2 linked regions of the Homo sapiens genome follow. The protein of the gene in region 2 purifies or fractionates together with the protein of the main gene of each other region. This does not show direct contact. Each region holds a gene or a part of one and is shown on either strand. Other genes may lie near its edges. The genes, in order: CSN2 and PIPOX.

The links.
Region 1: the proteins of PIPOX (region 2) and CSN2 purify together in Homo sapiens (affinity purification with mass spectrometry; one large-scale study listed by BioGRID and IntAct). This does not show direct contact.

What each region holds. Positions count from the first base shown.
Region 1 is NC_000004.12:69,962,730-69,967,185, reverse strand, and holds the start of CSN2 (beta-casein isoform 1 precursor), read left to right. Parts: upstream 1-1,457; 5' UTR 1,458-1,505; intron 1,506-4,456. UniProt on the Homo sapiens protein: Important role in determination of the surface properties of the casein micelles.
Region 2 is NC_000017.11:29,045,819-29,049,643, forward strand, and holds part of PIPOX (peroxisomal sarcosine oxidase), read left to right. Parts: intron 1-3,825. UniProt on the Homo sapiens protein: Metabolizes sarcosine and L-pipecolic acid.

The sequences.
Region 1 (4,456 bases), on a different chromosome or scaffold from region 2:
GGCTACTGCAATAACATAACATAACAACTTCCTTTACTAGGTTACCTGATTTGTTGTCATAAAGTCATGAAATCCAAGAAATTTTACAATCCATTTTTCTTTCAAATCTCTAATATATTTGCTTCCACTGAATTATGTCACAGTGCATGCCTGACATTCACAGTCATCCATGATCTGATTCTATCAAACCTCTGCAATTGTAACTTGCAATGTATGCCCTCTGAATATCCTCAAACTGGTATGTTGCTCTTTCAGTTCCTGTGTTTTCTTCAGCCAAAATATCTATCCCCATTTAATCATCTCGCAAAATTCTACTCATTCTCTAAGGCTCAACTAAAAGAGCAGTTCCTTAATGGCAAGCTCCCCTGCCACACACAGCACAGAGGCCCTACTTTTCCAATTCAGGCATAATTAAATTGTACATATTTCAACCAAATGCTACATTGATAGATAAATTTTATAAAAAATTATCAGAAGGTTAAAACATGGGCTCTGAGACTCACATGTGATCAAACAGAATCACATGTAGTCAGACAGATCTGAGTCCAACTGGTATCTTTGCCATTAACAATATGGTTTTGAGCAAGTTACTTAACCTTTTGGCATCTCTGTTTTCTCAACCTAAATATGAAGAGGAGAGCTACCTCATGATGTTCTTGTGCAGATTATACAAGATAATATCTTTGCTTAGTGCTTGGCAAAGGGTTAGAACTAAGCAAAAAAACCCATCATTAATATTATCATAATTATGCTTGACCTGAAAAGAGATAATCAATATTAAAAGGTAAATAAAACTCCGTGATACTTTGCAAAATTTTTATTACAGATTTACTGAAGATTTTGCCTATACCAGCCACCCAGATTCCCTCTTCAAGTTATTCCATTACAGAGGAAAGTTTATTTATCTTGTGTACAAAATATTTGTTTTAACTAAATTATTTTTTTTTCCAAATCAAGTGGCCCTGGGAGAAACAGTTTGCCTCACATAACTAAGCTACCATCATGGACTTGTTATCTTGTCAGTTTCTTCATTTCAGCATAAAGCACTAACAACTGCTTAGGTTCACATGAAACTGTGGCCTTTGTGAAGCCCTGTGTATATCTAGCGTTCACATACAATTTTCCCACAACTGAAATCTCAAGGCCCCACTAGGCCCTAAAGAGACCTAATTATGTCCATAATAACTTGGGGACAGGGCCAGAGTATCACTGTCCTCCAGTCATTGTCTTTTGTTATTGAATAATTGCATTTCCTGGACAGGTTTCTTTTATCAACTTGTGAATTGTTCCCTTGTTATAATGATGCCCAGAATTTCTGGGGATATGTAATAGGCAGAAATCATTTTCTAATCATGTGGACTTCTTGGAATTAAAGCTCGCTATTGATCTTATTTCAAATCACAAAATTAGTGTGTCATTAAATATAGTATATAAACAGTCACAGAAGCTGATGGACCATCATCCATCCAGCACTACCTTCACTTCTCTTCAATCTTGGAAAAACGGTAAGAATTTTAGATACAAATTTGTTGTATCTTCTCCTAACCATGTATTTCAAAGTAGCTTGAGCTATAGAAGGAACGTAGTTACTTAAAATATAGTGTTTGAAATAAAAGTATTTAAGGTAGTACTGAGATTATTTTTAACACTTAGGCTAAAAAAGATAGAAGTGCCCAGAAGAATTTGGTAATGACATATAGCCTTCATGAGTTTAAGAAAATATAATAGCTAATTTTATGCATATATATATATATATATATATATATATATATATATAGTATGAGGCTAGTTCATAGTTAATATTAAAAGGAGATTCATTTTTTTAATTAATCTTCCAATTTGATTTAGCATATCACAGTTATAAAAAGAATTATACTTCAATTATAGTATGGGTAGATAAATAATTACTGGAAAAGCTTTGTCCAGCAGGTAGTTTACAGCAGTAGCATACTGAGTTGAGAAATGGAGGGAATGGTATGGGGGCATTTACTACTTTAAATGTTTATAAACAATGTTTTTAGAAGAGTTTACTCATCAAACTTGTCTAGAGCCTCAAACTTCCCAGTTTATTATCTAGTTTGTAATATTTCAAAACAATATTAAAATGAGACAGAAATACAGAATTAAGTAAAAAAGAAACAATGTGGTTTACTTTGTAAGAAAATTCTTAATGGGGTAGAAAAGACTTGGAAACCATAAACAAAGATAATAGATGATATAAAAGAAAAAGTAGCTTAGAGTGTACCAGTTGATAATGAAGCTCTGGCTTAAAAATTAGTATATAAAAGTATACCAGTATGTAGTATATTTATAGTATAGAAATGAGTATAAAAACTAGTATAATTAGTATTAGTATATATTAGTATATTAGTATATAAATTAGCATTGTAATTATACATTCGTATATAAAATTATTATATATATTAGTAGATTAGTAATAAAACTAGTAAAGTTTATATTACTTATAAAATATAGAAAATGCTGTGGGATCTTCCCTATGTGTAATTATATATAATAGAGTGTTATATTCTGTTTCTGAACCCTGACATAAAAATTTGGGAACTTATAGTGGTCTTAGGCAAAGTAAAATTAATAAAAACTTAATTAACATTCATAAAAAATCTAGAAAAAATATTTGTTTTCTGTAATAGAATTATGTTCAACCTTCAAATATTGAAAAGAACATCTCTCAAATAAATTAAAGACTTTTTTGATGAAGTATTTTAGTTCAAAAATTTAGTTCAAAAATTGAGTTTCAATATCTGAGAATGAAGATTTGAGTGGTGAGTAATATTGTGGCACAAACATTATTTTGAAATAAATTACAAAAAAATGTAAGAACACATAACAAGGAGATGATTTAGTATATTTTGGTCAAAAATATTAACATATATTTCACAAGAAGAGGTAGTCCCAAGCTTAGCAGTGGGCAAGAGGCTCTGACCCCTTGGCGGATCATCAAGAGAATCGTGTGTACATTTCAATAAAGAGAAGAGAAGAAGCCTAGTGTACAATATCTAAAGTCATGTGGCATAAAGGAGAACAGACATTATTAGCTATGTGGGGAAGATGAATATAAACGGAGAAGAAACAAACTCAATAGTCCAATAAAGTCTCTGGATAGTGACACAAATAAGGAAAGTGTTAAAATGAAAACCTCAGTCTTATTGGAAATGAGGAGAAATAAACTAAAATAGTCATGGTAACCGTTTAGTGAAAAGAAAAAAGGTAAAAATAAAATGTGACTTTTTTGTACACATTTTCTTGATCAGTCTCTTCCAGTAGAACTGAGGCTCCATGAGGGAGTAATATCAGGACTGTAATATTTTGTTCATTGCTGCGGTCCTGGTCCCTAGACAGTGTCTGGCAAGAACAGATTCTAAAGAAATATTTTTAAGTTAATGAATAAATCTTTTTTTAAATTTTATTTGTCTTTTGAAATTATTATTATTATACTTTAAGTTTTAGGGTACATGTGCACAAAGTGCAGGTTTGTTACATATGTATACATGTGCCATGTTGGTGTGCTGCACCCATTAACACGTCATTTAACATTAGGTATATCTCCTAATGCTATCCCTCCCCACTCCCCCCACCCCACAACAGCCCCGGTGTGTGATGTTCCCCTTCCTGTGTCCGTGTGTTCCCATTGTTCAATTCCCACCTATGAGTGAGAACATGTGGTGTTTGGTTTTTTTGTCCTTGCGATAGTTTGCTGAGAATGATGGTTTCCAGCTTCATCCATGTCCCTACAAAGGACATGAACTCATCATTTTTTATGGCTGCATAGTATTCCATGGTGTATATGTGCCACATTTTCTTAATCCAGTCTATCATTGTTGGACATTTGGGTTGGTTCCAAGTCTTTGCTATTGTGAATAGTGCCGCAATAAACATACATGTGTATGTGTCTTTATAGCAGCATGATTTATAATCCTTTGGGTATATACCCAGTAATGGGATGGCTAGGTCAAATGGTATTCCTAGCTCTAGATCCCTGAGGAATCGCCACACTGACTTCCACAATGGTTGAACTAGTTTACAGTCCCACCAACAGTGTAAAAGTGTTCCTATTTCTCCACATCCTCTCCAGCACCTGTTGTTTCCTGACTTTTTAATGATCGCCATTCTAACTGGTGTGAGATGGTATCTCATTGTGGTTTTGATTTGCATTTCTCTGATGGCCAGTGATGATGAGCATTTTTTCATGTGATTTTTGGCTGTATAAATGTCTTCTTTTGAGAAGTGTTTGTTCATATCCTTTGCCCACTTTTTGATGGGGTTGTTTGTTTTTTTCTTGTAAATTTGTTGGAGTTCATTGTAGATTCTGGATATTAGCCCTTTGTCAGATGAGTAGATTGCAAAAATTTTCTCTCATTCTGCAGGTTGCCTGTTCACTCTGATGGTAGTTTCTTTTGCTGTGCAGAAGTTCTTTAGTTTAATTAGATCCCATTTG
Region 2 (3,825 bases):
AACAAAATGGGGACGTTCCCCAGGCTGGATTGCTTGCCAGGGAGTGAGCCTCCACGTCTTTCTCTGCTGCCTTCATGGCTCTCTCCAACCCTTGACCTTTCAAACACTCATGGGAAAGAAAGCCAATAATCTGTGATGCAATGGGAACTTTAACCATCCCACCTCCCTCCCACCTCCTCTGTGACTCTTAACTGAACTTCCTACAAACCCTGGCTCTACCTGATAGGGTGGTGGTTATTTTAATGGCCAGGAACCAAGAGGTTAGTGTTCTGTTGCAAAAATACCATTAACTTAAGAACAAAGTGAAATCCATTATGCAAATCAGCCAGGGCAGCTAATTACAGATTTATTCAGAGGCAGCTAATGCACCCAGCACCCAAATAAAGGAGCATGTCTTGCTGGTGGGTGGCCCGGCAGAGGGACCCCTCTCTGTCAGTTGTCTGTGAATACTGCTGAGCATCTTTTGCTAAAAGAATCGCCCTGGGCCTCAGAGGGCACACTTCCTCCTAGCACACAATGAGGCAACTAAGAGACGTTAGAGTGTCTGGAATCTTTCCGAGGGAGACGATTCTGGAGTGAGACAGGCTTAGGTTTGACATTGTGCTCTATTCCACACCAGTTGTGTGATCTTGGAAAAGTTTCTTGACTTCTCTGTGCCTCACTTTTTACGATAGGGCTCTGAGAGGATTAAATGAGACTTTTGTGAAATACTTGGCCCAATGTCTAGCACCTTTCAATAAGGGGCAGTCCCTTATTGACCCATTCTGGGTCAGCTGCATTCTGTTCCATTGAGCAACAGTGGGAGGAAAGGCAGGAGGAGACAGATGGGTGCAACAACCACAGATACCAAGGGGAGTGGCAGCAGGAAAGAGGGAGAGGGATCCTTGGGTAGGAGACTCTCAGAAGCGCACAATCCTCCTCTTTGCCAGGAGGACAGGAATTTGGACGGGCTTTGGAACTGGACCTGGCTCTAAATCTCAGCTCTGACACGCTCAGCTGTGTGGTTTGGAACGAGCTGTTGAACCTCTGGTGAGACTCAGCTTTTTTCATCTGTGAAGTAGGGATACTAATACCTGTGTCATGGTGCTGGGGTGAGGATAAGTAGGTAATGGGCTTAGAACAGCACCTGGAAAACCATCTTCCTCCTCCTCCTCACCATATATGTAGTGTTTACAATAAGAAACTAGGCTGGGCATGGTGGCTCACGCCTGTAATCCCAGCACTTTGGGAGGCTGAGGCAGGTGGATCACCTGAAGTCAGGAGTTAAAAACCAGCCTGGCCAACATGGTGAAACCCCGCCTCTACTAAAAATACAAAAAGTAGCCAGGCATGGTGGTGGACACCTGTAATCACAGCTATTAGGGAGGCTGATGAGGCAGAAGAATCGCTTGAACCTGGGAGGCAGAGGTTGCAGTGAGCCGAGATCACGCCACTGCACTGCACTCCAGCCTGGGTGACAGAGTGAGACTCCGTCTCAAAGAAAAAAAAAGAAAAGAAAAGAAAAGAAAAAACTAAGAGTTGCCTAAGTACCTGACACCTATAACTCATTCCATTCTCCTCACAATCTTATGAGAGGGTTGCTGCCGGGTAGTCAGGGTCTTATCCCATTAATGCAAATCACAGAATTACTATACTCTTAAGTCTAGAATAGAGGTTGGCCAGCTTTATCTATAAATGGCCACGTAGTAAGTATCTTAGCCTTTGCAGGCAACGTGGTCTCTGTTACAATTATTCAACTCTGCCATTGTAGTGTGAAAGCAAGATGTAAATAAATGAGCCTGGATGTATTCTAATACAACTTTATTTATAGACACTGAAATTTGAACTTCATATAATTTTCATGTGTCACTCAACATTATTCTTCTTTGGATTAAAAAAAATCAACAATTAAAAAATTTAAAAACCATCTTGGCTCATGGACCAGACCAAAACAAGCAGAAGGCCAGATTTGGTCCCTGAGTGGTAGCTTGCTGGCCCTGGGTGTGGAAGATACCTCAAACTGGTTAACTTGTCCATTTCTGTCTCCAAATAAGTTCATGCCTAAATCATCCCAGGTCAAAAGACTGCTACTATGCATTTAAAGACAGGGAAATATCACAGCCCTTCTTAAAAGACCATTCTGATGTCTCATAGCCCCAGTTACGAAAAATGAAAAGTAATGTGAATATGCTTTAAAAACCTCTAGAGTGCTAAGTATTCTTACTACTATTGTTATTATTCTATTATTATAAGTCCTTTCTTATGGCTAACCTAATGTACTCAGGCACACCAATTTATTTGGTTCTTTTACTTAGCAGGGACACAGAGCAGATACTTCCCATTCTCAGAATGGTATCTGAATACAGCTCTACTACCTTTGGGCTAAAAGCCATTCTAATTCCTTTAGCTTTTACTGATTCTTATTTTCTAAATGATTCATCATCTGTGTGGTTCTTACTTTTCCCCAGGTTTTTCTAGAAGAACCAGCACAATACCATAATACTACTGATAGATATGAGCATACTTAATGCTATTTGATGATGATTAAAAAAAAACCTTTAGGAGTTGGCAGTTCAGGTGGTTGTCCAGTGCTTTTCATTCTGTTTAGCTGCTTCCTGTGACAGCGGCATACTAAACATGGGTGGGTTTGGGACATTTGCATATATTCTGGGAACAGACAATGACACATGTGTCAGATCACAAGGTCTGAATCTTTTGTGATGTGTACAGCCAGGATGCTGATTCCAACAGCAAAACCCAGCTCCCTGGCCCATCTCTTTCCTGCCCCGCCTTCTCCCTTTGAGTCCTACTGTCTAGCTCCTGACCTGGGCTGCCCCTGCTTAGCTGACAGTATCAGACAAGATCACAGCCGTAGGCAGTACAGCTGCTGGCAGAACCTGGTGGCCCCCTCTGCAGCTGCTGTTTCTTGTGTCTGCGAAGTGTCTGGCTTGTCAGCCACATCCCCTCCCTGGAGCAGTCTTTGTTAACCAATTCCACCTCGGCCCACTGAACGGAAGATGAAATGCCTAGAGCTCCTCCAAAACCAACAAAGGCAGCAGCCATTACCAAGTCCCCATTCGAATCCCTTCCCCAAGGTGACTCAGAGCTGGCTTGCTGGGCATTTTTAACCCACAGAGGGGAGAGCTGAAGCTTGGGATGGGAGATGGCAGGTGCAGGGAGAGCCGTCTCCTCTCCCAATTCCTCCCCACTCCATCCTACACCCTGTCCTGCTACAGTAACTGGTGGAAATCCCTGATCACCAACTCCCTACATCATATCTGAGGCATTAGTCGGGCTATAGCAGAGTCAACAAGGCCCTCGGGAGGAATCTTCAATTACCTCTTCCTAGTGCTGGATCAAGCTAGGGTCAGGAGGAAGGAATAGTTCATACTAAATGCTCTTGACTCAGCTGATGGGCATTCTGGGAGGTGGGAGCTGCACTCTTTTCTAGGGTTCCCTGGCAACCCATGTGCTGGCTTTCAGTCCTTCTTTGTAGCTAGTCCTGACCATTCATTTCCCGGTCATTTTTTATCCTGCTGATGCCCTTGTCTCCTCTCACCCTTCTCCTTCCCAAACTTACAGCCCAGGTCTAAGCAGAAAAAAAGAAGACAGGGAGGCCACGAACACAGGGGTGAGAAATTGATGCAGAATGAGCAGTCTATTTGTTGGTATCTAGAAAAAGCCATTAAGAAAATAAGCACTTAAATGATTTTCAATCTGCCCATGGAAGCCATCCATCTTCATACTGGGAGGAAAAGGCCCATTCTCCAATCCCGGTTTTGACTGACTGGTTTCCAATTCTCTAAGCATTTCCCATAGGAGCCTCTCACCTATCTCCCATAATCA